Homo sapiens: one gene and its partners. The protein of the gene in region 2 purifies or fractionates together with the protein of the main gene of each other region. This does not show direct contact. Each region holds a gene or a part of one and is shown on either strand. Other genes may lie near its edges. The genes, in order: CKAP2L, PDGFRL, HS3ST1, SP3, RBM6, PPP6R1 and MOCS1.

Region 1 (3,500 bases), on a different chromosome or scaffold from region 2:
AGCAGGACAGTGACATGGACCCAACGAATGGGGAGCACTACCATGCCCAGAAATCCAGGTACTGGCACACTCAGCCAAGCAGCACCTTCTACTGCTAGAAATGGGGGAGACGCAAAGGTAAGTTCACAATTGAGAATCACTAACATTTGAGAAAACCAACACTACATGAAAGAGGCATAAAACTCAACAAACAAGAATGAACACTGGAGCAAAGAGGAATACTTTTAAGAGTATCACAGTCAATATCTTCAGAGTGATAAGAGAGAGTATTGCTATCCTAAAACTAGAATGGGCTGTTATGAAAAATAACCAACAGAAAGGCAGAACAACTGCATGGACAGCGCTGAAGAATACATCTGTGAGCTGAAAATTCAGCTGTGAAATCCTCCTAGAAACCAGTGTAATAAAACAATGAAGTGAACAGTATGAAAACAACATTTAGAGTTCTGAAGGATATATCCATTACTCAATAACTCCAATATCCATCTAAGAGAGTTTCTAGAAGGAAAAAAGTTCAACACACAAAGTGGTTGTAGAAGAAGAATTTCAAGAAATGAACAAAGAAACAGTTGTTCAGGTTGAAAAGGCTCTCAGATAGTTAAGCAGGATGAATGGGAGAAAAAAATATAATAGAAAACCAAAGATAAAAAGAAAATCGTACAAGCTTCCAGAGAGGGGGAAGAAAAGGATTACCTATAAAGGAATGAGAATCAGACTGACGTGAGACATTAACAAATCAACAACTCCAGATGCAAGAAAGAAAATGAAGCAGTCACTTAAATTTTTCCAGGGAAAACAAGCTGAAATTAAGAAATTTCCCCCAGCCAAACTATGATTCCAGCATGAAGGCAAATAACAAGTTTCACAAGAATACAGACTCAAAAGGTTTGCCATTCAAAAATCATAAAGTCACTAGTGAGTAAACTTTAGAATTCACATGAAAGACTTGAAATAAAAGTAACTGCAGGCCAGGTGCAGTGGGTGGTTCACACCTGTAATCCCAGCACTTTGGGAAGCTGAGGCAGAGGACTGCTTGAGGCTAGGAGTTTGAGACCAGCCTGGGCAACACAGTGAGACCCTGTGTCTACAAAAAAATGTAAACTATAATGGGTGTAGTGGTGTGTACCTGTAGTCCTAGCTACTCAGGAGGCTGAGGTGGAGGATCACTTGGGTCCACCCAGGAGGTTTAAAGTTGCAGTGAGCTATGATGGCATCACTGCACTCCAATCTAGGCAAAAGAGTGAAACCCTGTCTCTTAAAAAAAAAAAAAAAATGAAAAAAGGAACTGCAAGAAGAATATGATATATATTCTGCAAATCATGTTTGAGCTTACATCTATCACTTTATTTTCATTTCAGTGTATTATTTTATGAAATAAAACTAGATTAAACACAGAAATGAGGAAAAAATAATTCATGTAAGCTGAATTACAAAATAAAATAGCAGGCATAAGTTTAAACATACAAGTAATCATAATAAATGTGTACGAACTAAATTTGCTTTTTAAAAGCAGAGAGTTTCAAATTTGTTTAAAACATTTAACTGTGTGCATTTATATGAGACATACCTAAAATAAGTCAGCCCATGAAGGCTTAAAGTAAAGGGATGGAAAAAGAGCTACCAGAGCTACCAGACATATTCTAACAACAAAAAGCAGGTGTGGCAAGATTAATCAGACAAAAGAAATCAAAGCAAGTCATGAATCTTTCTGTACCTAACAACATAACTTTAAAAAATAGAAAGTAAAAATTGACAGACATATGAAGAGAAATTGTCAATGATTAATCACAGTGCCAGTGACAGACTTTGGCATATTTCTTTCAGAAAGCAATAGATCAAATAAACAAATAGGATATACATTATTTTCAAACACTTTTGGAACATTTACCAAGAATGATCAGATATTAAGGCCACAAAGAAAATTTCAACAAAATCCATCAAGTAGAGTACACATAGGCCACATTCACCAACTACAATGCAATATAATTAGAAATTAACAGCAGAAAAAAAAAATCTACACATCTGGAAATTAAAAGATACTTTTCTAAGATATTTTTTGGGTTAAAGAACTCAAAATGGGAATCTCAAGCTATTTAGAAATGAACAATGACAAGATATGTCAGTTATGAAGCTTTTGTCTATTGGCCCCAAACCCCATCCTCTGCTTTGTGATGCTGGGGATAAAACTCTGTAAAACTTTCTGCTGGGCAGCAGCTCCCTGCTCAGCTCTGCCAGCAGGGGGCACGAGAGGGAGGCTGCAGGGATGGAGAAGGAAGACACTTGCTTCTTCCTATTTGCTTTCATCACCCCAGCAACGGTCCCTCACCCTGGCAGTAACAGTTGGTTCTAGCATCTTTTTTTCCCCCTCAGAGCCCACCTCCCTGTGCAGCTTCAGAGCAGAAGCACCAAATGGATAGCATCTTTTCCTCAAAATCTGAGCCCCAGCCCTGCAGGGCCTCTCCTCCATCATCTGCTGGGTAGTATGCCTTCCTTACAGTTGGAGTCCCATTTCTACCAGGGTTTGTCTCTCCTGCTTCTTGGTTCTGATACCCTAACCTCTCTTTGTTCTCCTAGACCCAGTGGGTACAAGCTGCTTCCTACAGTTATCACATTACCTCAGGTTCCTGTGTGCTGTCAGCCCTGTGTGTAGCACCCACACTCCTTCTGATCCCTTCAGCATCTTGTGCACACAGGCTTACCGCGTGCTTTCACAGCCAGCATCTGTGCTCCCTCGTATGTGCCCAGAGAGTGAGAAGTGCCTGACAATTCTTGTCCGCCCGAGGCAGCCATGAATAAATGACCATGGAAGCTTTAACAATGTAGCTCCCTTGCCTCTGATCAGGATGACTCTGAGAGATGTGACCTACACTGTCTCCAGAGCTCCCCTGTGGGGCTGTGCCAGAGTCACCGTCCATGGATTCGCTTTTCTGATCCTACAACTTCACTCCCCTCCCAGTTTTCCCTGGAGTGTCTTCCTAATAAACTACTTTCACATGGATTCTCCTCTTAGGCTCCACCTCTAGAGAACCCACATAAGATACTGTGTAACCAATTACATTCTTTCTGTGGTTTGTTTTTCAGACTTGATCCTGACTGATAAAGAGTATTACTTAGTCAAATCTGAGGGATATGACCAAAGTAAAATTCAGAGGCAAATCTGCTATAGCACTGAACATATTTATAAAAAAAAAAAAAAGAAAGACTCACTTTTAAATGATCTAAGGTTTCAATTAAAAAGCTAGGAAAAGAGCAATAAATATAAAAATAGATGCAGACATTGATGCAAGAGAAAAAATAATCAATAAAACCTGAGGTCTTTTAAAAAGATTAATGAGAAAAAATCTTTGGCAATAAAACCTGAGATCTTTTAAAAAGATTGAGAAAAAATCCCTTTAAAAAGTCACAAAATTACTAAAGTTGACTCAAGATATATGAACTCTAGAACAATGACCCCATAACAAATTGAGAGGATATATACAAAATTATCCTCCAAAGAAACA
Region 2 (3,500 bases):
GTCTGAGAGCAATATAGCCAGATCTCTAAGAAGGTAAGGACAGAGACACAATGACGAGGATTCTCTAACCAAGAGCCTTTGACACTTTCGTGTCTTCGTTTATTTTTGAGAAAAAAAAAGAGTAAAAATTAGTACAGAAATATTTTAATGAAAAAAAGAATTCTAAAGTTCCTTATTGTTTATGAATGCACATAATGAATGCTTTGAAGCATTTAGGATCTTGGCTGGCATGTTTGACATACAAAACCATTTCTGATCCTTAAAACACAGAAAGAGAAAAGTTTGAGGGCAAGAGAGAGAGATCTGGTGGTCAGAGGACTGATGGTTTTCAAACCTAGACAAGGTTTTAAAACCCTTTCTTTGTGGTGCTCAATGAAGGGAGAGGAAAGATAAAGAAGTAAAGATACAATTTAAGGAAGTGGTAAGTGGCATCGAGAATCATGAATCAGGGTCTATTAGGTTCCTAGGGCTGCCATAACAAAGTACCACGGAATGGGAGGCTTTAAAACCGCAGAAGTTTGTTTGCTCACAGTCCAGAGGCTTGTAGTCCAAAGTCAGTGTCAGCAGCACCACACAGCTTCTAAGATGCGGGTAGAATCCTTCCCTGCCTCCACTAGCTTCTGGTTGTGGTCAGCAACCCCTTGGCATTTTTTTTAGCTTGTGGCCACATCACTCCAATCTCTGCCTCTGTTGCCATGTGACCATCTTCTCCCCGTGTCTGTCTTTACATGGCATTTTCATACGTGTGTGTGTGTGTGTCTCCTCATAAGAACATCAGTCCTATTGGAGGAGAGCCTACCCTAATGACCTCATGCTAACTTGATTACATTTGCAAAGACTCCATTCCTCAATGAGGTTACATTCACAGATACCTGGGAGTTAGGACTTCAGCATATCTTTTTAGGGGACACAATTCAACCAGTAAGACAGGGTGAGACATGGAGAGGACTGAGGCGGGGTGTGAGGATGCCGTTTGAATGGATAGCCATAAGCCTGCCTGAAACAAGGAAGCAAACCCCGGAGGTAGCTGACAGCAAAGCTGTGCACTCCAGGGGCACCACAAAGGCAATAGCTTCAAGATGGGCTTGTACCGGTTGCCAGTGTGGCTGTGGCTGTGATGCGTGGGACGGGAGCTGGCCAAGCCTTGTAGGGCATGGGAAGATTTAGGGCTGGCTTCTAGATGAGATGAAAGTCACTGGAGGCTTCTGAACGAAGAAGTACCCATAATTTGATTTATGTTTTCAAAGGTAGGTGCTATGGTTTGCCCCCACCACATCTTATGTTGAATTTTGATCCCCCATGTGGTGGTGGTGGTGGGAGGTAGGGCCTCATGGGAGGTGTTTGGGCCTTGGGGGTAGATCCTTCATGAAGAGATTAATGCCTTCCCTTGGGGATGTGTGGATTCTGTATTATTTCCAGCAAGAACTGCTTGTTAAAGAGAGTCTGGTCCCTCCTCCTCCCACCGCACCATGTGATCTCTGCACTGCTAGTTATCGTTGCCCTCTGCCCTGAGTGGAAGCAGTCTGAGGCCTTCATTGGAAGCAGATGTTGGTTCCATGCTTCTTGTACAGCCTGCAGAACGATGAGCCAAATAAACCTCTTTTCTTTATAAACAACCCAGCCCTACGTATTCCTCTATAGCAATGCGAAATGAACTAACACAGAAAATTGGTACCAAGGAGTGGGATATTGCTATAAAGATACCTGAAAGTGTGGAAGCAGCTTTGGAACTGGGTACTGGGCAGAGAATCGGAAGAGTTTGGAGGGCTCAGAAGAAAACAGCAAGAGGAGGGAAAGTTTGGAATTTCTTAGAGATTGGTTATATAGTTGTGACTAAACTGTTGATAGAAATATAGACAGTAAAGTTCATGCTGACAAGGTCTGAAATGGAAACAGATAACTTATTGGGAGCTGGAGAAAAGTCACCCTTGTTAGGCCTTAGCAAAGAACTTGGCTGCATTGTGTCCATGCCCTAGGGATTTTGGAAGGCCACACTTAAGAGTGATGTCCTAGGGTATCCTAAAGAAGAAATTTTTAATCAGCAAAGTGCTCAAGTAGTGGTGGGTGTGGCTGGGTTTAAAAGCTTAGGATCAGCCGGGCAGGGTGGCTCACGCCTGTAATCCCAGCACTTTGGGAGGCAGGCGGATCATGAGGTCAGGAGATCGAGACCAGCCTGGGCAACATGGTGAAACCCTGTCTCTATTACAATACAAGAAGTTAGCCTGATGTCGTGGTGCGCACCTGTAGTCCCAGCTACTTGGGAGGCTGAGGCAGGGGAGTCGCTTGAACTCGGGAAGAGGAGATTGCAGTGAGCTGAGATCAGGCCACTGTACTGCAGCCTGGTGACAGAGTGAGACTCTGTCTCAAAAAAAAAAAAAAAAAAAACTTAGGCTCAAGATCAATTACAGCAGCAAAGGAATGACCTAAAGGTAGAATTTATTATGAAAAGGGAAGCAGAGAGTAAAAGTTTGGAAAATCTGAAGCCTGGCCATGTGGCAGAGAATGAAAGAGCATTTTGGGAAAAGAATCCAAGGGCACAGTTGAGAGACTGCTTGAATCATGCTAGTAGCTAAGAAAATAAGAGAAAGGCCTTATAGCCATTTTGGAAATCTTTGAGGAGCCCCTCCCATCCCAGGCCCAGAGACTCAGGAGAATAGAATGGTTTTGGGGGGCAGGCCCTGCTGCTCTTCTGCCGTGCACCACCTCGGGATGCTACTGCCCCTATCTCAGGTGCACCAGCTCTAGCCTTCACTTAAAAGGTCCCAGGTGTGGTTCCAGATGGGCGAATAAGAGCAGAAGAGGCCAATAAGCAGAACAGAGAGGTTGCTCCAGAGGGCACAAGTTATAAATAAACCTTGGAGGCTTCCACATGTTGTCAAGTCTGCATATTCCCAGAATGCAAGAGTGATGGAGGCTTAGCTTCCACCTAGATTTCAGAGGATGTATCAGAAAGCCTGAGTGTGCGAGCAGAAGCCTGCTACAGGGGCAGAACTAACACAGAGAGTCCCTACCAGGGCACTGCCTAGGGGAGCCATGGGAACAGGGCTCATGTGGGGATCCCAGAATTAGAGAGCCACCAGCAGTATGCACCCTCACCTTGGAAAACAAACAGACATTCAACTCCAACCTGTCAGATCAGCCATGTGGGCTTCACCCAGCCAAGTTAGAGGGGTGGGGAGGGCGAAGGCTTGTTTTTGATTTTCCAGGCTCACAGCTGTAAGGAACTTGCCTCAAGCTCAGATGAGACTTTGGACTTTTGAGTTGATGCTGGAACAAGTTAAGATTTCGGGGACTATTGGGAAAGGATGCTTGTAATTTGCAGTATTTGAAAGACATGAGTTTTGGGGGGCCAGAGGTGCAATGCTATGATTTGGATATTTGACCTCCTCCTAACCTCATGTTGAAATTTGATCACCAGTGTTGGTGGTGGGGCCTAATGGGAGGTGTTTGAGTCGTGGGGGTGGACCCCTCATGAATGGCTTGTTGCCCTCCTGGAGGTA
Region 3 (4,110 bases), on a different chromosome or scaffold from region 2:
TCTCAGCTTTCAGGGTGCTTCTGGCTGTATCAAAAAGACAGAATATACTGGTCACTGTGTTGTTTTCTGAAAGTGCCGAGGGTAATCTGTGTATGAGTTAAAGGGCCAATTTCCTATAGGAACCTTCTCTTAGATGGGATTTTTTTTTAATTAAACAATGTTGGTGAAATATATTTAAACGTAAATCACAAATTCGAAGTCTTCCAAATATTTATTTACTAATGTGGAAGACATGGAAACTACAGTAATCTCATTTAAAGGAAGTTACTTTGATGTGCATTTGCTTTTGGCGGGGTATGATTGCTGACCTGCCTTTGAGGGCAACTTCCTTTGGCTCAGGTAAGCAGGCAAACCCGTTTCTCCAAGGCGATTCCAACCCCACGCCCCTCAAAACCTTAAATCTTAAATTGAGTTATTGGGTGCAGGTCCTTTCTCCCACAGAACCTCCCAGCTTCCGGAATAGAGGAGCGGGGCAGAAATATCCTGCTTTTTATTTCAGAGCTGACGTTTGCAATCCTAGTGCACTAGCGGAAAAAAAAAAAAAAAAAAAAAAAAAAAAAAGCTGAATTTTCCGCGCTCTCCTGGCAAATTGGCGTCCGCTCTCCGACGCTAAACCAAAGGAAAAGGAGTGTTCAATGGCGACAGGGCGCTCTTTGAAGCCGGCTCCTCACGCGGATTCTGGCCCAGGCCGCCGCTCCGGTCCCAGTCCGGCTGCAGAGCGAATTGGAGAGGATGGCACCTCCTGCTTCCCGGGGGGCGGAAGGAGCGCCAGCGCCTAAGGTGGGTCACCTGCCAGGAAGGGAATACGCATGGTGCAGACTCACGTGGGAGGAGCACAGGTCCCGGGTACAAGTGCCGAGCTGGCGACTTAGAGAAGAGGTAGACTCGGGCTCAGACCAAGCAGGCGTAAGGGAGTAGACGGGACGTCCCGTGTTTGCAGTGACGGCGGAGTCACCCATCCCAGCAGCCTCACCTTCTTGGAGCGCTGGTCCCTCCCCTTGGACTGAAACCCCAGGGGCCACCGCACCGGGTGGGCGGGACCGACTACTACCCGACCAGCCGCTGGAGCTGCGTGCCAGGCGGGGCTGTGCGGAGCAGCTGAGCGCAGAGCGGAGCACCAGGCACCTAGCGGGCCGGACTCTGGGCGGCACCCGAGCGGGCCGGGCAGCAGTGGGCGCTCGCGATCCTCCTCTGCCCAACGCGCTCTCCCTCCGGGCCCGGCCTCCTCCGTCCCCTCCTTTTGCTCCCGCTCCTCCTCCCGCTCCTCCCCCTCCTCGGGATTGAGCACCAAAACGCCCGCCTGCAAGGTCCTCTGCGCCCTGGCAGCCAGGAGTCGCCGCCACGACAGCCGGGTCTCAGTGGGTGCCTGCGCCTTCTCCCCGCCCGCCTGCCCCGGGCCATCCAGAAACTTGCTCTACCCGCCGCGGGTGCTCGGCAGTGCTGCCCATGGCCCAGCCTAGGAGCCTATTTAGGGCGCCGGACGGGCTGGACAGAGGCGCGGCTCAGGTGAGTGCGGCGCGCGCGGGGTGGGAGAGTGGCAGGACGCAGGTGTAGAGGGCTCCGAGGTGCCTTTGTCTGGCGTTCTGGACTTCGGGCAAGTGCAGAACCTAAGAAGAATCGAGGCTGGAGCAGGTGGAGTGGATGCAGAGGGAACCAGGAAGCAAAGGCTGGGGATTTTCCCATCCTCCTCACCTCCTGCCCTAGCACCTCTGCTCTGGAAGTCCCGAGGGACCGGTTGATCTGTAAGGACAGGGACCCAGATTTCTGACTCTTACTGGGTTGGATGTTTTCCCCCCCTGCAGAGTCGTGAGGTTCGCTCCTGCCGGCCGCTTCGCGACCGCAGCTTCACCATAGGACCCTGTAGGGCAGCGAGAGCGCAGCACTCAACGGATCCTGGGTACCACCTGGGGCCAGAAACTGGGGCGAGGACACAGCCCGCAAAAGTAACTCGGCTGAGGGAGCCTTTGGGGGTGGAGAAGCCTTGGTCGGGTTTGCCTTTGCATTTGGTTGGAGATAGGCATCTCCCAAAGAGAGAGATTGAGGTGACAGCCCTGACAATAAACCTCTCATCCCTAATGCCAATTACATGAGGGTCTTGATTTTTTTCTTGTTACTTTTTACTGATTTTTTTCCCCCTTCGTGGTTTTCTATTTCCGGGCCCTTGGGTAGTGGCAGCGGATGGAGGTGAGGGATGGCGGGGTGCGAACCCGCGGTTGGAACGCCTAGACCCCAGCTCCCAGGAAGGGTCTTATTCGCGGAGCTTGACCTCTCCAGGTGCGCTCTACCAGCCAGGGGGCGGACGGCGCGCTGCTCCTCCTTCTAGCCCCAGCCTGTCCCAGGAAGCGGAGGACAGACCCAGAACGTAGGCGGATGATGGGAAGAAGAAGCTGGAGCCAAAGCCGGGTGCCGGCGCGGGATGGGGTGTGCTGGGCTCTGCAGTTATAGGTCTATAACTCTGCAGTTATAGGCGCTATAGGTCTTCCATCTCTTTCCCTCCCCTGGGAGCCAGCGATTCCTCGCACACTCAGGGCGCTCTCTTGGGCCAAGGGTTGCATCCTCCCTCTTCCTCCTCCTTTGCAGATCCAGTGGTACCCTTGCCTCGCCTTGCGCGAGTCTCGCTCCTCCCTTTCCCACAATGTTATCATGAGCTATTTTTATCTACAACTTGTGCCAAGATGCTTTTGGGGGGATTCTAGGGAGGCCACTCCAAATCCACTGTCTTTGCGCTGCGCTCCGAGAAACAGTCTCCTGTTAGCATGGAGCAGCCTCAAGGAGTGGCGGGGAGGGTGGCCGAGAACGGAAGGAGCCAGTCCGCCCTCTTCTCCTCCCTCAGCCCTAGCCCCGGAGGGAAACCCCGCCACCACCAGCTCGGCTGCGCCTCCCGCCAGTAGCCCCGGAAGAGGGTCCCCAGACGAGTCCCCACGCTCCCGCTTTCAGGCGCTGGGTGCTTGGACACTGCTGAGGCAGCAGCCTGGCACAGGCAGGATCCTTCATTCCCACCCGTGCGTTCTCGCTTTGCAGGCAAATCTCATTTTATTTTGTTGAAATGCTTCCACCCAAGGGTTAATTCCAGGAATTCCATCTTTAAAAAAAAAAGAAAAAAAAAGGAGGGAGAAATAACCCAACTTCTGCCTCCCTGCATTTCTAAAGCAAAGCGCATCCTTTGACGTTCGGATTTTTTTCTTGCTTTCTGCATTCCTGGTAATATTGGGTAACACTGGGTGCAATTAGAATAAGCCTTACCTACTGAAATTCCAGGAGACGCGCGCTCCGCTGCAAATCCCTGCCTTACCCTTCCCGTTGTACATCCAGCGCTTAGATTTTCCCCCACAGGATTGCAGAAATAACATATTGAAATGGACCATTGTGTTACATAAGGTTTTCTCCAGCGCTAAGCAGAGAAAGAACAGCTTCTAAAAGAGTCTTTCCAGGTTTTGGTTAGCCCATCTAACTCTTTCAGCTGAGTTTGACAGGGATGGACAACTTCATGACTAAGCACTCTTAAGTGGAAGCAGTTAATTACAACAGCAGCATAGATGAAGATTCCTTAGTGAGGCTTATTAAGCTGTGCTTCTAGACTGTGGATCCTCTGTGATGCCACAGGGTATACAATGCTCTGTAGTTTTAAGATAGGAGATTTTTGTTCTGAGAAGCTGGTGAGAAATTGGCATCTTGAGATGGCATCGGAAAAAGCAAAGGGTTCTTTACTTTCCTGTGGTTATGTCTAGAATGAAGCCTCAAGCCCCCCCCCTGGGTCCCCCTAAAAGTTGGAGCATGTACTTTTCTTATTAAAATAAGAAATTATTTTACTGGAAAAATCTTGTGAGGGTTGGGGGGGGGGCCTCTGAAGGGAAAAGCCACATGGAAGCTTCTCTTGCCTTGAATTGAAACTCGATGGTGACTAGGAAGGGGCTAGAAAGATGGCCTGGGTGGTGTAAATTGCTTCACTCATGCACACTGCCTTTCTGAGAACATAGCAGCTACCCACAATGGCATATCCCCACCGTGGTTGCTAAATCATGTCTGTCTATGGGGGCTAAAGTTTGGAGGAAGGCACAGTAAGATGTATCTGGTGTCCTGATGAAATTGAGCCTGTAGGCTGGGTCAGTG
Region 4 (4,200 bases), on a different chromosome or scaffold from region 2:
TATTCACATCCCCTATAACGAAGCACTAAAATTACAAATTATTTACCAGTAATAGCTTAACATTGGTTTAACTTAAAAAAAAAAAATACCTGGACATACTAAGCATTTGTTGTAGACTATACCAAATACCAAACTTCTGTCTTCAGTGACTATTGAAAGTATCACTCCACAAATCAATTCCTATGATCCACCACACACACACACTCAAATGAGGGTTTTCATTATTTTAATAGGTGAACAAATCTACACAACAGTGATGACCCAAATGTAAAATTCACAATTAACAGTCTAAAAACTGTTCCTATCCTATTGGTATTAACCCCTCATATAACACAGGCGAGCTCCTCCCCTTGCCCAGACACTGAAAACACTACAGAAAGAATCCCACCATATCTTACCTGACTAGCAGTCGTAATAAAATGAAAACATACTTTTGCCAACCAAATTCAGCTATAAGTATTGTACTACTAGTATGCACGTAAATACAATTCCTTACACATACTTTTCTAACACTGTTATATTCAGTTTCAAAATCTAAAGTACTATCTAAGCAACTTGCTGATTTCAAAGGCTGCTAAATGTTTCATTTACCCCCCTTACAAAAAAAAAGTCACTGCAAATTTTAGTAGTCTGCAAAAACTAAAATTCAACGATTTTGAATGGTCAACTAAAAAAGCAGTCTTCACTCCTGCATACAAAAGGGTAATTCAAAGAATAAACCCTCATTTTTTTTAATAATGTATGATTTAAAGCAGTAAGATCCTGTAACGTCCAACAGAAAATGCTCCAGGTTCAAAAATAATAAAAACTAAAGACATTGCCTCTAGTTGATACTATCTATGGCCGATAGGCTGTGCTTGAAAATTTTGTAGTGTTAAGCGAAGGAGTTTTCAGCACTGATATGAATTGCTCAAACATCCATTTTGGAGTCCTCTACCCCCGCCCTCTCAGACTTCATTTTGTGAAGATTTTGCGCGAGGTGCTGCAGTGACAATTTCGAGAAAGCCTGGGCTGGCTTCAGATCCAAACCGGGATGCGAAAGAGCAGGAAAGGGCGCCCTGGAGCCCAGCGGCCCGTGCGGGTCGGGGGAAGCGCGGGCGCCGGGGAGGCCTTTTGGGCAGGCGCGCCACGGGTCCGGGATGGCGGGCGCCCGGCCTCGGCGGGGGCGGGCCGCGCGCGGGACTTACCGCTCCGGCGGCGGCGGGGGCCCCGGCTGCGGCGGCCGCCTCCTCCTCGTCGTCGCCCGGCGATGGCGGCCCTATCTTGCTGCAGGTAGCGGCCAGCAGAGCGAGCGGTGACGGCTGAGTGTCCTACCCCCAATGGGCGGGTTCAGAGAGGGAGACAGGGGGAGGGGGTGGCGGTTAGGGTCGGGCCGCCTTTCGCACAGGAAGTACGACTCGGTCCCCGCCGACTGCGCCCGGGCAAGCGCCAGCCCGCGCTCTCCTCCTCCTCCTCCTCCTCCTCCTGGTCCCGCCGCCAGCCCACGCCTGGCGTCCCCCGCTCCAAGCACCCCGGCTCCCCGGTCCGCGGGCAGGCGGGCGGCGGGCTGCGCGCCGGGCCTCCGCCTTCCGCCCGGAACCCACCCCCGGGAGGGCACGCTGGGGCCCACACTCACACGCGCACAAAAAGGCGGCAGGCGGGCGAGGCGGGGCGGCGCGGGCGGGGTCGGAGCGTTGGCGCCTCGGGCGGGCAGCTCCCGGGGCGGGGGGAGGGGAGTGGAGGGGAGGGGAGAGACGAGGAGGGAGGGGTGAGGCGAGGAGGGAGGGGAGAGGCGAGGGGAGGAGAAAGCGGCGCGAGGGGGGAGCCGGGCCGGGGTTCAGCCGCTCCTCACCTGGGCCGCCGCTGCCGCCGCCACCGCACCGTTTCCGTGCTGTTGCTGCTGCTGCAGATACTCGCCGTGGCCGCCGCCGCCGCCACCGCCGCCGCCGCTATCCACGTCCAAGGCAGCCATTTCCTCTTGTTTCACGGGCTTTTCGGGAGCTGCAGGCACAGCGCGGGGGGGTGGGGGTGGGGAGGAAGGCGGGTGGCGGAGAGGGAGGGGGCCCGCGGGCCGAAGCGAAATTACTCCCAAAGCCCGGACCCAGGCCCCTTCCCCTCCCCCACCCGCCCCCCGGCGGCGGCGGCGGCGGCGGCTCCCTCCTCCCCTCCTGCTGCTGCCCCCGCCCGCCGCTGCCTGTAACCCTCCTCCTCCTCCTCTTTCCCTCCTCCTCCTCCTCCCCGCGCTGCCCCTGCCCCCTCTCCTCTCCTCCCCTTTCCCTTCGCGCCGCTCGCTCTCACTCGCGCTCGCTCCTCTCGCACCGTCAGTCACTCACACACGCCCGCCCGCGCCCGCACACAGGGGGATGCGCTCCCGGCGGACCGGGCCGCCCGCCCCGGGGCCTGGCGGGGAGACGGCGTTGCTGGGGCTTCGGGGGTGGACGGTGGCTGGCGGGGAGGGGAGGGAGGCGCAGGGGAGTGCAGCTTTCTGCCTCTCACAGACACTCGGTCGCACACACGGGGCCGAGACCGGCGGCAGCGGCCCCGGGCTGGCTGTGGTCGGCGGCAGCGGCGGCGGCGGCAGCAGCAAGGGTTGCTCTCTCGGCTTTACGTACCGGTCATAGTGTGTTTAGGGCACCTCAGGCGGGGCTCCCCGCCGCCTTACACATGGTGAGGAGCGAAGGCGGCGGCGGCGGGAGAGGATGCGGGAAGCGGCGGCGGACACGGCCGGAGCGGTCCGGGGATTTTTTTTTCCTATTTTGATTGACTGTGCGGGAAACACAAAAGGTGGAGCCTCCAGCCCAAAAGGGGGGAAGAGGGTGACAGCCCGCCCGGAACTCCCGCCCCTCTTCTTGGCTCTCATTCGCCGCCGTGCTCTTTGTCGGCTGTGCTCATTGGTCCAGGCGCCTGTCCGTCGGTCTGCCAGGCGGCGCGCTTCCTGTTTGCCCCCGGGTGGAAGGGGAGAGACAATGAGCGGCCGTGGCAGCGTAGGTTTTCGAGAGCGGCTACGGCTCGCCGGTTACCCCGCTGTGCCCGCCTCCCTCGCCGGCTGCCGCTGCCAGGCCCGAGGCGCAGGCCTCCTCCACCTTGCAGGCGCTCGGAGCAGGCCTAGCCAAGCTGTAGGGGAGCTGAGCTGGGGAGGAAATTCGTCCCCGGTGACTCCTGCTCCACTGGACGCTTCCTCCATCCCGGCAGCAGTCTTGGCCGGATCTCCCCAGGGCCTCGCGCTCTTGGAGCCGCCGCTTCCCTGCGCTGCCAGGAGGCCACCGCTGCTCAGCCCCGGGGCTGCTGCTGCGGCCGCTGCCGCTACTGAGCAAACCAGACCCGCCCCACGAGCCCGGGGGGAGGGAGCTGGTATTAGGGGAGACACCCCCTCCGAGGCTGGAGGAGGATTTTTCTCTCTCACATCCAGCTTCCTGATTCAGTCACAGCCATCTCGCTCCCAGCCCCCTTAGCCCCAGTTTTCCAACCGGTCTCCCACTTTCACGTACCCTGAAGGCAGGCATTTAAAGCAAAAAAGAAATCTCAAGTCACCTCACATACGGAAGGAGAGTTTTAATTTTGGCCAGTGGCACCAAAACGGGCACTTAAAAGTATATTTCATTTTACTTGTGGTATGTGTATGTATTCAGTGGGGCAGAATTCTGTGTTTTAAAAAATCGGTCACATAACCATTTTGCTGCACAAACGTATTATTCCCGGCCTCTTTATCCTCTTGGTACCAAGTCAGATATCTCCTGAAATAAGCCCATCAACCACTGCCAACGTTTTTTAAAGTCGTGAACCGGTGAACTACCTTTTTTCCCCCATTGGAACATTTTTGTTGTATTTTAAAATCTTGTTTCTCTTACTGGATTAGGTTAACACTCCTTCCTTCTTTGGCATCCTTGGTATCTTGCTGTCATCCTGGGGGAAAATGCTCAGGTTTTAAGTGTGTGTTTTGCCAACTAAGAGACATCTCTCCCTGTTACCTTCAAGTATAGTTGCCAAGAAAGAAGTTAAATTCAAGAGGTGGAAACACTGTCCACAATACCTGTTTTTTAGAAATCTGGCTCAAGATTCAGTTTTCCCATTACTGTGATTATTATATTTTGTGTGATATGTGATGTGCTGGTGGATGAGGTTGTGAAGTCCAAGCACTTTAACCAGATTTTGTGTGTCCTAACTTAATAGGTAATCCATTTGTGAGATACTGAGTTTACATCCCAGTTCCAAAGCACTTAA
Region 5 (3,500 bases), on a different chromosome or scaffold from region 2:
GGATTACACACATGCATCACTACGCCCAGCTAATTTTGTATTTTTAGTAGAAATGGGGTTTCTCCGTGTTGGTCAGGCTGGTCTCAAACCCACGACCTCAAATGATCCACCTGCCTCAGCTTCCCAAAGTGTTGGGATTACAGGCAAGAACCACCACGCCTGGCCTAATTTTTGTTATTTTTAGTAGAGATGGGGTTTCACCATGTTGACCAGGCTGGTCTTGAAATCCTGACCTCAAATGATCTGCCCACCTTTGCCTCCCAAAGTGTTGGGATTACAGGCATGAGCCACTGTGCCTGGCCTTATTTTTCTTCCCCACCCTCACATTCTCTCCTGAGGTTGCACCACACTGGTCTCAAGTTCCTGGCCTCAAGTGATCCTCCCACCTCAGCCTCCTAAAGCACTGAAATTACAAGCATAGGCCACTGTACCCAGCCAAATCTACTTTAAAAGAGAATACCTTCATTGTAAAATTACAAATATAACCCTCCTTGCTTAAATCATATATTCAAGAAGTTTAACATTTAAGTTAATTACGTTAGCTGCAAGAGGATAGTTGCAACATTAATATCAGCTCTTCACAACTAGGGAGACTCCTAAGTATTCTCTCAATGAATTTAAATAAGAAAATGATCCCTAAACAATCACAGGTCTAACTAAGCGAGAGTTGCAAGAGTCAACTCCCAAAGACATATACTTTCAAACTAAATTATCCCAAGGCATGTAAATCAGCATCATAAAACAAAATAATGAATAAACACACATCAAAAGGGTAGGGGCAGTGGCTCATTGCTGTAATCCCAGCACTTTGGGAAGCTAAGGTGGGGGGACTGCTTGAACCCAGGAATTTGAAACCAGCCTGGGAAATATGTTGCAACCTTCTGTCTACAAAAAAATACAAAAATTGCTGGCCAGGCATGGTGGTGCATGCCTGAAATCCCAGCTCTTTGGGAAGCTGAGAAGGGTGGATCATTTGAGATCAGGGGTTCCAGCCCAGCCTAGGTAACATGCCTAAACTTCATCTCTACAAAAAATACAAAAATTAGTCAGATTTGGTGGTGCACAACTACAGTCCCAACTACTCAGGAGGCTGAGGCAGGAAGACTGCTTGAACACGGGAGGCGGAGGTTGCTGTGAGCCAAGATCGTGCCACTGCACTCCAGCCTAGGCAACACGGTGAGGCTCCATCTCAAAAAAGAAAAAAAAAAACACAACTAACTAGGAATGGTGAAATATACCTGTAGTCCCAGCTTCCTGGAAGGCTGAGGCGGGGGAACCCCTTGAACCCAGGAGGTAGAGGTTGCAGTGAGCTGAGATCGCACAACTGCACTTCAGCCTGAGCGACAGAGCAAGACTCATTCTCAAAGGAAAAAAAAAAAAACTAGCCAGGCATAGTGGCTGGCGCACATCTGTAGTTCCAGCTACTCAGAAGGCTGAGGTGGGAGGATCGCTTGAGCCTGGGAGGTCAAGGCTGCAAGGAGCCATAATTACACCACCGCACTTCAGCCCGAGTGACAGAGCAAGACCGTGTCTCAAATATATATATATATAGTTCCTTCATATATACACACACATATATACACAAATGGAAAGTGAAGCAGGAAGAAAAGAATAAAAGAAAAAAGAAATATATATATATAAATATATATTCATATATATACATATATATTCATATATATATATACACACACACACACATATATATGATCTGAGCTGAGGACCTTTTCTCTAGAGATTTACATTCCTACATTCCACTCCTGAATACAAATTTTGCTTTCTAATGGTTATGCAAAGATAAAAATAAAATGAAAAAAAAAAAAAAAAACTGGCCAGGCACGGTGGCTCATGCCTGTAATTCCAGCACTTTGGGAGGCCGAGGTGGGCGGATCACGAGGTCAGGAGTTCGAGACCAGCCTGGCCAACATGGTGAAACCCCATCTGCACTAAAAATACAAAAATTAACTGGGCATGGTGGCACATGCCTGCAATCCCTGCTACTCAGGAGGTTGAGGCAGGAAAATTGCTTGACCCTGGGAGGCGGAGGTTGCAGTGAGCTGAGATTATGTCACTGCACTCTAGCCTGGGTGACAGAGCAAGACTCCGTTTCAAAAATAAATAAATAAATAAATAAATAAATGTCATCCTTCACAAAAGTCTTATTTAAAGAAAAAAAAAAAAAGCAGGCCGGGCGCGGTGGCTCACACCAGGCGTGGTGGTGGGCGCCTGTAGTCAGTCCCAGCTACTCAGGAGGCTGAGGCAGGAGAATGGCATGAACCCAGGAGGCGGAGCTTGCATGAGCAGAGATCGCACCACTGCACTCCAGGCTGGGCAACAGAGCGAGACTCCGTCTCAAAAAAAAAAAAAAAAAAAAAAAAAAAAGCAATCCACCCCATCAACATACCTGAAGGTCCCGTTGGGCATCTCGGGCAGTTTTGCCCTCTGGAAAAGACTTGCTCTGGCCATAGCCAAACATCTGGCTTCCTGGCAGCCTATGATCCACATCACGGTACTCCATGCTTCTGTAATCGGTGTCTTGCCGCCCAAGAAAGTCCAGACCGCCTTCTTCTTTAAACAGACCAGCATCTGAACTCTGCTCTTCACGTCCAGAAAGCTGTGACTTATCTTGGTCTTGAACTGGACTTTGGCTGTTCTGAAAGTCTGCTGGAGACTCATGTTCAAAGGCTACACCTTGTGTTTCTCCTTCTCTTGTTTCTGAATGCTCAAATTCTCCCTTCTGAATGCCAAAAGCAGGCCTTTCTATCGTATGGTCATGTGTGGATTCTTCTCTCCTGTTCACATTCATACCAGAATGTTCTCTATCTTGTGTAGAGGGCTGAATGTAATCCAAAATATTTGGATCCACAGGGGGCATCTCCCTATCTTTAAATTCCATACAAGATCCCATCTCTCTGCCCCTAAAATCCTGATCAGTCCTAGATCGGTGTCTACCTCTGAAATCTGAATGTGGCGTATCCCTGTCCCTAAAGTCTAGATCAGTAGTACCTGAACCTCGGCCTCTAAAGTCTACTTGTGTTCCGTCTTTGTCTCTAAAGTCCAAATCAGATACATCTCTATTCCTAAAATCAGAACGGGACTGTTCTCTGGCCCTAAAATCCAAATCTGATAAATCCCTTCCCCTAAAATCTGCATGGGATCCATCCCGGCCTCTAAAATCTAAATCATAAGTGCCCCGGCCCCTGAAGTCAGATGGAGGAGCATCCCTACCTCTGAAGTCAACAGCGTGAGCATCCCTGTCTCTGTAGTTCATATGAGGTGCCTCCCTACCTCTATAATCCATAGAAGTACCATCTCCACCCCTATAGTCCATAGGTGGTCCTTCTCTATCCCGAAAATCCCCAGAATGTATGTCCCTACCCCTGAAGTCCAACTGTGATGAATCTCTGCTCTGGAAATCAGAAGACGAAAAATCTCCCCCCCTGAAATCATGTCCAGGTCCCTCCCCTCCTCGATAGTCACCATGCGGTCCGTCTCTAGCTCCA
Region 6 (3,500 bases), on a different chromosome or scaffold from region 2:
TACGGGGCCGAGGGAGGAATCTTCTTGTCTGCTTTGACAAGTGAGGGCACTGAGGCTGAGGCCACTGCTGCAGCTTGTGTTGGGAGGGACCCCAGGCCCCCGTGCCCCTGCCTTACCACACAGGCCGCTAGCCTGTTGGGTTTGCCTTCCCGCCTCCACCCCTCACCCGTGCTCTCACAGTGGACTGCCAATGCTGCCGCCTGGCGGGCTCCCCACCCCAGCCAGGTGTTGTCTGAAGGGCCTCAGAAGAGAGCGGCGCTGGGGGCATGTGGCTCCTCGTTTTCCTCCAGACCCTGCAGACGTGGTCCTTGTGCCTACTCCTGTGTGGGCGCACAGGCCATCTAGGCTCACTCCGCCTTCGACCCTGCCCTGCTGCAGGTCCGAGTCCGTGACCGTGAACAGCTTCTTCAGCAGTGTGGATGGGCAGCTGGAGCTCCTGGCCCAGGGGGCCCTGGAAAGCACTGTGTCCAGTGTGGGCGCCTTGCACGCCCTACGCCCGCGGCTCAGCTGCTTCCACCAGCTCCTGCTGGAGCCTCCCAAGGTCAGGGGTGTGGGTTCTGGTCCTCGGGGAGGCGGGGGAAGCAGGAAGGGCAGCCCTTGGGAATCAGGCCTCCCTGTGTCTGCAGCTGGAGCCGCTACAGATGACATGGGGCATGCTGGCTCCGCCTCTGGGCAACACGCGGCTGCACGTGGTCAAGCTCCTGGCCAGTGCCCTGAGCGCCAATGATGCAGCCCTGACGCACGAGCTCCTGGCACTGGACGTGCCCAACACCATGCTGGTGCGGGGACTGGACCGGGCTGGGGGTTCAGGGGCTGGGGCGGGGACTGGACTGGGCTGAGGGTTCGGGGGCTGGGGTGGGGGCTCGGCTGGGGGCTCAGGGGTTGGGGGCTCGGCTGGGGCGGGGCCTCTCTGGTACCAATCCTGTGTCCTCCCATAGGACCTCTTCTTCCATTATGTCTTCAACAACTTCTTGCATGCCCAAGTAGAGGGATGCGTGAGCACCATGCTGAGCTTGGGGCCACCTCCTGACAGCAGCCCTGAGACGCCCATCCAAAACCCTGTTGTGAAACATGTGAGCTGGGACTCCCTGGTCCCCCTCCTTCTGGGCCCATCCCCTGTGGGCGCACCCTCTCCAGAGGCCTACCCCTCACTCCTTCCTCCCACAAGTGTTTGTTGGGTAGTGTTAGGTGCCAGCGCCCAGATGGGGTGTGGGAGGCATGGCCAGGGAGAAACGCGGATGAAACATGCAGGTGCAGGGAGCAGTGGGCTCCTGACTTGAGCTGAAGAGCTAGGGGTGGGCGGGAGCAGACCTGCGAGCAGCTGAGTGTGCATGAGTGCGCACACGTGCGTGTGTGAGCATGTGTCAGTGCAAGCGTGTGTGAGAGCATGTATGTGTGTGAGTGCACACGAGTATGTGAACATGTATGTGTGAGCATGTGTGTGTCCGTTAGTGCATGCATGTGTGTGTGTGTGTGTGTGTGTGTGTGTGTGTGTGTGTGTGTATGCACCACATATTCTTTTGTAGAAAGACCAGAGAGACTTGGGTGGATGCCAGGGTCCCAAGCCCCAGCTTGCATCCCTCCTTCCCATCCCCGTCTCTGGATGAGCGGGGGCCTGGTGAAGCATCTGCTGAGGAAGGGACCCCTGCTGCAGTGCAGAGCTCCCCACATGTGTGCAGACCACCCCTCCAGGCCATCCTGTCCCGCTCTCCCGCAGCTGCTGCAGCAGTGCCGCCTGGTGGAGCGGATCCTGACGTCCTGGGAGGAGAACGACCGTGTACAGTGAGCACCTGCTGCCCTTCATGTCTCCAGGGGCTGGGGCTGCCTGGATGGGGGGCCGGGCTGGGGCTGGGCATCCCTGGGTCCAGTCCTGGCTTGCAGCCGCGGCCTTCACTCTTGCCAGGTGTGCGGGAGGCCCTCGGAAAGGCTACATGGGTCACCTGACAAGAGTGGCCGGTGCCCTGGTGCAGAACACGGAGAAGGGGCCCAATGCAGAGCAGCTGCGGCAGCTGCTGAAGGGTGAGGGTCCCCAGGCCGGCCTGAGGGCTAGGTGGGGGGCTTGAAGCCCCGAGATGCCTCACGTCTTCACCCCTCTCACCTAAGCAGAGCTGCCCAGCGAGCAGCAGGAGCAGTGGGAAGCCTTCGTATCGGGGCCCCTGGCGGAGACCAACAAGAAGAACATGGTGGACCTGGTGAGGCCCAGCTTCTCTTCCTGCACTCCTCCTGCTGCTTCTCTCTCTTGGGCCAGTCTTAGCCTCCCACCGCCACCGATAGCTGCCTGCCCACCCTGGTCTGGGGGCTCCAGCAGGCCCTGACGCCCCCTCCTCTCCCCAGGTGAACACCCACCACCTACACTCCTCCAGTGACGATGAGGACGACCGGCTCAAGGAGTTCAACTTCCCTGAGGAGGCTGTGCTGCAGCAGGTGGGCGTGGGGCTATGTGGGGCTGTGCTGGGCTATGCTGGAGTGGGGTCCTGCCCAACTCCCTCCAGCCCTAACCTCCGCACCCCCACAGGCCTTCATGGACTTCCAGATGCAGCGCATGACCTCTGCCTTCATTGACCACTTCGGCTTCAATGATGAGGAGTTTGGGGAGCAGGAGGAGAGTGTGAAGTGAGTGTCTCCTGCGCAGGGTCACAGCCCTGTCCTGCCTCTGCAGCAGCAGGCGCGCCTACTTGTATCTGTCCCCTGCACGCACCTACATGCCCTGTGGGCTCAGCCTGCAGCTGTGGCCCCTCCTGGGCACGCGTTGGCCGTGGCCTTGTGTGTGTGTCTGCAGCCTCGTGTGTCTGCCTCCTGTTACATGAGTTCCAGCTCTGCAGTCTCTTCTCTCCGAGAGGCAGGCCATGAGGGTGGGGCACAAACATCTTCTGTGCTGGGGACACAGAGCGGGTCCCTCCCACTCCTGGAGCTAGCCTTAGGGGTTCCAGGCGGGAGGGGCTCAGGGTAGTGGGGACCAGCAGTCCTGGCGCAGGGACTGTGGGGCAGAGCTGCACCTCCATGGATGCCCTCTGGCTCAGGAGTCTGCCAGACATGGGGGTCCAGTTTTCCCCTCCACAGGCCTCGGGGTAACAAAACTTTTTTTTTCCAATTACCAATTCTGCTTGTTTTGATTTGTGGGTCAACCACATCTTAATATCAGTCACCTCTGGGTGTTATGATCATGAACTTTTCTGAGTTTCTTGCCACAAGCATCTGTTGCTTCTGGAGTCAGAAAAAAGTGGCTGGGCGGAGTGGATCACACCTGTGATCCCAGTACTTTGGGAGGCCGAGGCAGGCAGATCACCTGAGGTCAGGAGTTCGAGACTAGCCTGGCCAACATGGCGAAACCCCATCTCTACTAAAAAATACAAAAATTAGCCAGGCGTGGTGGCAGGTGCGTGTAGTCCCAGCTACTTGGGAGGCTGAGTTAGGACAATCGCTTGAACCTGGGAGGCGGAGGTTGCAGTGAGCCGAGATTGTCCCACTGCACTCCAGCCTGGGCAACAGAGCGAGACTCT
Region 7 (4,000 bases), on a different chromosome or scaffold from region 2:
CATTCTCCCTCACCAGTGCCTGCTGTACTCCTTCTACCTTCACCCACACCCACTTCCTTGCAGCCTAACCCCTAGCCAGCATTTGTTTTTTCTGGCCCCCTGAACAGATGGGTGCCTTTGCCTTGCCTAGACTCACCCTCCCTGCTTCCCCCGCCACAGGCAGCAGGCTTCATTGTTGCCCAACAAAGCCTGCATGGAGCCTCAGAGGGAGAAAGAGGGATACAGCACTCCCAGGCTAGGCTGAACCCTACAAAGATTGTCTGGGCCACCCCAGATGCAGGCTGGCAGGTTGCTGTGTCTCCCCCACCCACCTCCCCATTGACCCACACACTACTCCTTTCCATAGCTAGAAGCTACTCGACCTGTTCTTGGACTCAGCCCACAGCCCCCTTTCCGCAATCCTCACAGCCAGCTCCCACTTAACCTCACTTCTCTCCCTCACACCCTCATCCTGCCACACAAACAATGCCCAGTGGCTTTCCATCCTAGCTCTCCAAGCACCTCCCATCCCAAACCAGACTACCAGAGCCCTGTGTGGGCGTGTTGGGGGAGACAGACCCTGCAAGAAGGGGTTCAAGGTGTCCCCACCCCAACTGGCAAGCTCTGGAGATGAGCAGAACATATCCATTTCCAGACTCACCTCCCCTTAGAGTCTCCTCAAGACAAGTTTCTGTGCCCTCCCCCATCTTATGATGGGCTGGCCCAGTCCTCTCATTTTATAAACATGAAGCAAAGGGAAGTGACAGCCCCAGGAGCCAGGTGAAATTGGAGGCGAAACTGGCGGGTGAAAACATGGGACTCCCTGTCCAGTGTGGTCTACTATGCCACGTGACTCCTCACTAGTTAAGTTTCAAGCAGCTACAATTATTGGCTGAATCCACTGCCTGCACAACCCTGCGTTAAGCGCTTGTGGGGATAGAAAGGCGGAGGTGCACCCAGCCCTCAGGAACTCCCAGTCTGCTGAAGATAATCCTAATGAGATGTCCAGGATTCAATGTGAGTTGACAGAATAGCTATCCAACAAGTCCAGATGGGAGGGGACTCACAGGACAGAGCATGTGCCAGTGGCAGCATGGATAATAGTAATTACCACCAACATTTACATAACACAGCACTTACATGGGCTAAGCTTTGTTCTAAGTATATACGTTAACATACGTTAACTCTTTTAATCCCTGTGACATCCTATGAAGTAGACACTTTTATTCTTACTTTGCAGATGAGAAAACAGACACTGAGAGGTAAGGGGACTTGGTGAATCCCTAATAAGGGATGGGGCTGCCCCAGAGTCTATGTTCTCCTTTCTGCCACATTACCCCTCCCTTCACAGTGTAAAGGGATGGATAGGAGCAGGCTCTCTCCCTGGCCTCCACACAGGGAGGACGGAAAAGCATTAGAGTTGAGTTCCTGCCCTCTACAGCTCTGCGACTGGAGGAAAGTTAACTTAGATTAGCCCCCTCATCTGAACATACAAACTCTACTCACCTCACATGGCTTAGTGAGGACTAAATGCTTCCACATGTGAGTCACTCAACACAGGTTCTCTCATGAAAGACCAGTACAAAATAAACTAGGGGGTGGGGGGCTGGAGAAGAAAAGTCCCTTTTCTTGAATTCTTTAAAGATCTCTCAGCCATCTTTGCTTTCCTATCTCTTCCTCAATGATGTTCAGAGTTTGAGGATACTAAAAAGTCTTCACTTCCCAACCATGGGCCTGCTTATCTGAGGATCCCAGAGGGGCTTAGATTTGGGGAAAGCAAATTTGGCGGAAGTCATTGAGCAATATAGGGGAGGAGGGAGCAGTGATCTTATGAATCCCAGGACAGGAAGCCTAGTTCTGGGAGACGGGGAAAAAAACGCCTAGATAGGTACCGAAAAGAGGTTTCACTAAATGAAAAGAGGTACTTTTCCCCCCAAATTATTCCCTAACCACCTGAGCAGAAGAACAACCAAAACCTAAAACTTTTAATGACTTGAAACACTCTGAGGGGTGCTGGCAAGGACTGAGGGATCTTACCCAAAACCCTAAAGACAGAGGAATTAATTTCTCACCTGGAAGAAGCCACGTCCTGCCCTGTTCTGCTCTAGGATAAGGCTGAACCCTCCCAAGGTTAATAAAAAAGACAAGGAGAGTCAGCAAAGGATGGGTTACAGAGCCCTGGGACTACAGTAACAACTCATCGTTGGTGACACCGAGGTGACATGTTTAGTCAGTCGCACTATGAAGCAGGTGTCACAGGGACACCTGATCTCTCAGCTCTTGGGATAGGGAGGGAAAATGTTTAAGAAAGAGGGTGGGTGCAAGGCAAGGCTGAAAGGTACTAAGACACCTCACTGGACCCAAAGTCCCAGTCCTCTGCTTACCCGAATTTCTGGCCAAGCTCAGGGCTAGAAGGGGTGGCGTGGCTGGGGGGCAGGGAGGTTCTGAAGCGGGACTCCCAGGAACCTCTCCCGCTGGGCTAGCGGGTGAGACCGGGCGGTCCATCTGGAGAACATCGCTCCACTGAGGAGTGCCAACGGGTCCCTCCCAGAAGCGGTCAAGCAGATAGGCCGGGAGCTACTGGGGGAAAAGGGCAGTGTGCCGGGGCCACTCCTGCCCCGGGAAGCTGTGGACGCAGGCGGGGTGGGCTCACCTCCGAGGCAGCTCGCGCGGACTCCCCGGGGCAGGGCTGGGTCACCGGAGCCCCTGAGCTGCAGCTCCGGGCGCTGGACCTCAGAAGCCGCCGCAGCATCCGGGACAGTGGCCGCGCCGCCATGAAGCCTGATACGAGCGGAACCGCAGCCCGCTTCGGGAGCACACTGGCCGGGCACTCGCCCCCGGGGTCATCCCAGCAAGGGCGGGGAGGGGCAGGGGGAGGGCGGGACCCGCGCAGCCAATAGGCGAGGACGCAGTCCCGCGTGGCCTTGTGGGAGCTGTAGTACGCTCCCTGTGCCCACTTTCCTGGGCCGGGGTAGCGCTCTAGGGCAGAAGGGTAAACTCAGGTAAGGAACGGGGTTCTTTTCCTTCCAGTTTTTCTGGCTGCTCTAGTCTCAGATTTAGGTCGTGGTGTGACAGTAGGCAGGACAGGACAAGGGCCAAACGAATGAGGCACTGCCTTGGATGCAAAATTTAAGAGGGTGCCAGGTAAACTGCGGTTATCAAAGTAAGTAATTTTTTAATGTAATATTTCAAAAAATCGTAATAAATTTTCAGAAGTCCGTGAAATATCAACATTCTAAATAAAAAGATTTAGCCTACACTTGCATGACTCACATCACTCAGTGCACCATAGTGCAGATTGTGGTTGTAAAACGGTCAGTTAGGTCTTTCAAGATACACTTCTCCAGTTGTGCCCCAAAAGGATATTAACAATCTTTTTTTTTTTTTTTTTTTTCGTGGAGAAGGCAAGAGTATATGAGAAGTCACAGAATGAGTGGACAACATTTTTGAAATGCTTCTTATACACCAAGCACCATGCTAAATGTTATTTAAAACAATCCTGGTATGAATAGAATGTCCTTTTTGCAACTGAGGACATTGAGGCTTAGAGAGACCAGGTAATTTTCTCGAAGTCACACAGCTGATAGTGGGTTTCAAACCCAGGGCAATCTGCTTTCTACAGTCATTCAGTCAAGATTCAGTATGTGTTAGGAATGGTGGGGTGTGCCTCTTCCTCTCTATAAAAAGCAGAGTGCTGTAGTCCTTTAAGATTTTGGATAACACACACAATAATGAGCTTATGTACTAAGAATAATTATGCTCAAACCAGCCTGTTGTATCCAAAACCCTGTCCCTGTGGAATTGCAAGAATAAAACACCGGCTGGAACATACAGCTGCCAAGTGCATGCTTAGGAAGTGGGAATATAGCTCCTGATCTTGAAGAATTGACCGAATAGTGGGAGAGGAAAAAATAACTGAATATAACTGACTTTTACAAGTGCAGTGGGACTGTCAGAAAAGCTGAGATGATTTTAGCCTTAGATTCAATGTGAATTTCTCACAATGATACTCAAAATTCAG

What was found.
Region 1: the proteins of PDGFRL (region 2) and CKAP2L purify together in Homo sapiens (co-immunoprecipitation; one large-scale study listed by IntAct). This does not show direct contact.
Region 3: the proteins of PDGFRL (region 2) and HS3ST1 purify together in Homo sapiens (affinity purification with mass spectrometry; one large-scale study listed by BioGRID and IntAct). This does not show direct contact.
Region 4: the proteins of PDGFRL (region 2) and SP3 purify together in Homo sapiens (affinity purification with mass spectrometry; one large-scale study listed by BioGRID and IntAct). This does not show direct contact.
Region 5: the proteins of PDGFRL (region 2) and RBM6 purify together in Homo sapiens (co-immunoprecipitation; one large-scale study listed by IntAct). This does not show direct contact.
Region 6: the proteins of PDGFRL (region 2) and PPP6R1 purify together in Homo sapiens (co-immunoprecipitation; one large-scale study listed by IntAct). This does not show direct contact.
Region 7: the proteins of PDGFRL (region 2) and MOCS1 purify together in Homo sapiens (affinity purification with mass spectrometry; one large-scale study listed by BioGRID and IntAct). This does not show direct contact.

What each region holds. Positions count from the first base shown.
Region 1 is NC_000002.12:112,747,610-112,751,109, forward strand, and holds part of CKAP2L (cytoskeleton-associated protein 2-like), read right to left. Parts: intron 1-3,500. UniProt on the Homo sapiens protein: Microtubule-associated protein required for mitotic spindle formation and cell-cycle progression in neural progenitor cells.
Region 2 is NC_000008.11:17,580,216-17,583,715, forward strand, and holds part of PDGFRL (platelet-derived growth factor receptor-like protein precursor), read left to right. Parts: intron 1-3,500.
Region 3 is NC_000004.12:11,426,095-11,430,204, reverse strand, and holds the start of HS3ST1 (heparan sulfate glucosamine 3-O-sulfotransferase 1 precursor), read left to right. Parts: upstream 1-1,310; 5' UTR 1,311-1,506; intron 1,507-4,110. UniProt on the Homo sapiens protein: Sulfotransferase that utilizes 3'-phospho-5'-adenylyl sulfate (PAPS) to catalyze the transfer of a sulfo group to position 3 of glucosamine residues in heparan. Catalyzes the rate limiting step in the biosynthesis of heparan sulfate (HSact).
Region 4 is NC_000002.12:173,962,574-173,966,773, forward strand, and holds the start of SP3 (transcription factor Sp3), read right to left. Parts: upstream 2,801-4,200; 5' UTR 2,599-2,800; coding exon 2,592-2,598; intron 1,981-2,591; coding exon 1,832-1,980; intron 1,311-1,831; coding exon 1,188-1,310; intron 1-1,187. UniProt on the Homo sapiens protein: Transcriptional factor that can act as an activator or repressor depending on isoform and/or post-translational modifications. Binds to GT and GC boxes promoter elements. Competes with SP1 for the GC-box promoters.
Region 5 is NC_000003.12:49,967,650-49,971,149, reverse strand, and holds part of RBM6 (RNA-binding protein 6), read right to left. Parts: coding exon 2,402-3,500; intron 1-2,401. UniProt on the Homo sapiens protein: Specifically binds poly(G) RNA homopolymers in vitro.
Region 6 is NC_000019.10:55,238,518-55,242,017, reverse strand, and holds part of PPP6R1 (serine/threonine-protein phosphatase 6 regulatory subunit 1), read left to right. Parts: intron 1-378; coding exon 379-541; intron 542-626; coding exon 627-779; intron 780-938; coding exon 939-1,073; intron 1,074-1,717; coding exon 1,718-1,782; intron 1,783-1,903; coding exon 1,904-2,019; intron 2,020-2,041; exon of another isoform or gene 2,042-2,106; coding exon 2,107-2,192; intron 2,193-2,334; coding exon 2,335-2,424; intron 2,425-2,515; coding exon 2,516-2,613; intron 2,614-3,500. UniProt on the Homo sapiens protein: Regulatory subunit of protein phosphatase 6 (PP6). May function as a scaffolding PP6 subunit. Involved in the PP6-mediated dephosphorylation of NFKBIE opposing its degradation in response to TNF-alpha.
Region 7 is NC_000006.12:39,931,663-39,935,662, forward strand, and holds the start of MOCS1 (molybdenum cofactor biosynthesis protein 1), read right to left. Parts: upstream 2,801-4,000; 5' UTR 2,756-2,800; coding exon 2,633-2,755; intron 2,562-2,632; exon of another isoform or gene 2,364-2,561; intron 1-2,363. UniProt on the Homo sapiens protein: Isoform MOCS1A and isoform MOCS1B probably form a complex that catalyzes the conversion of 5'-GTP to cyclic pyranopterin monophosphate (cPMP).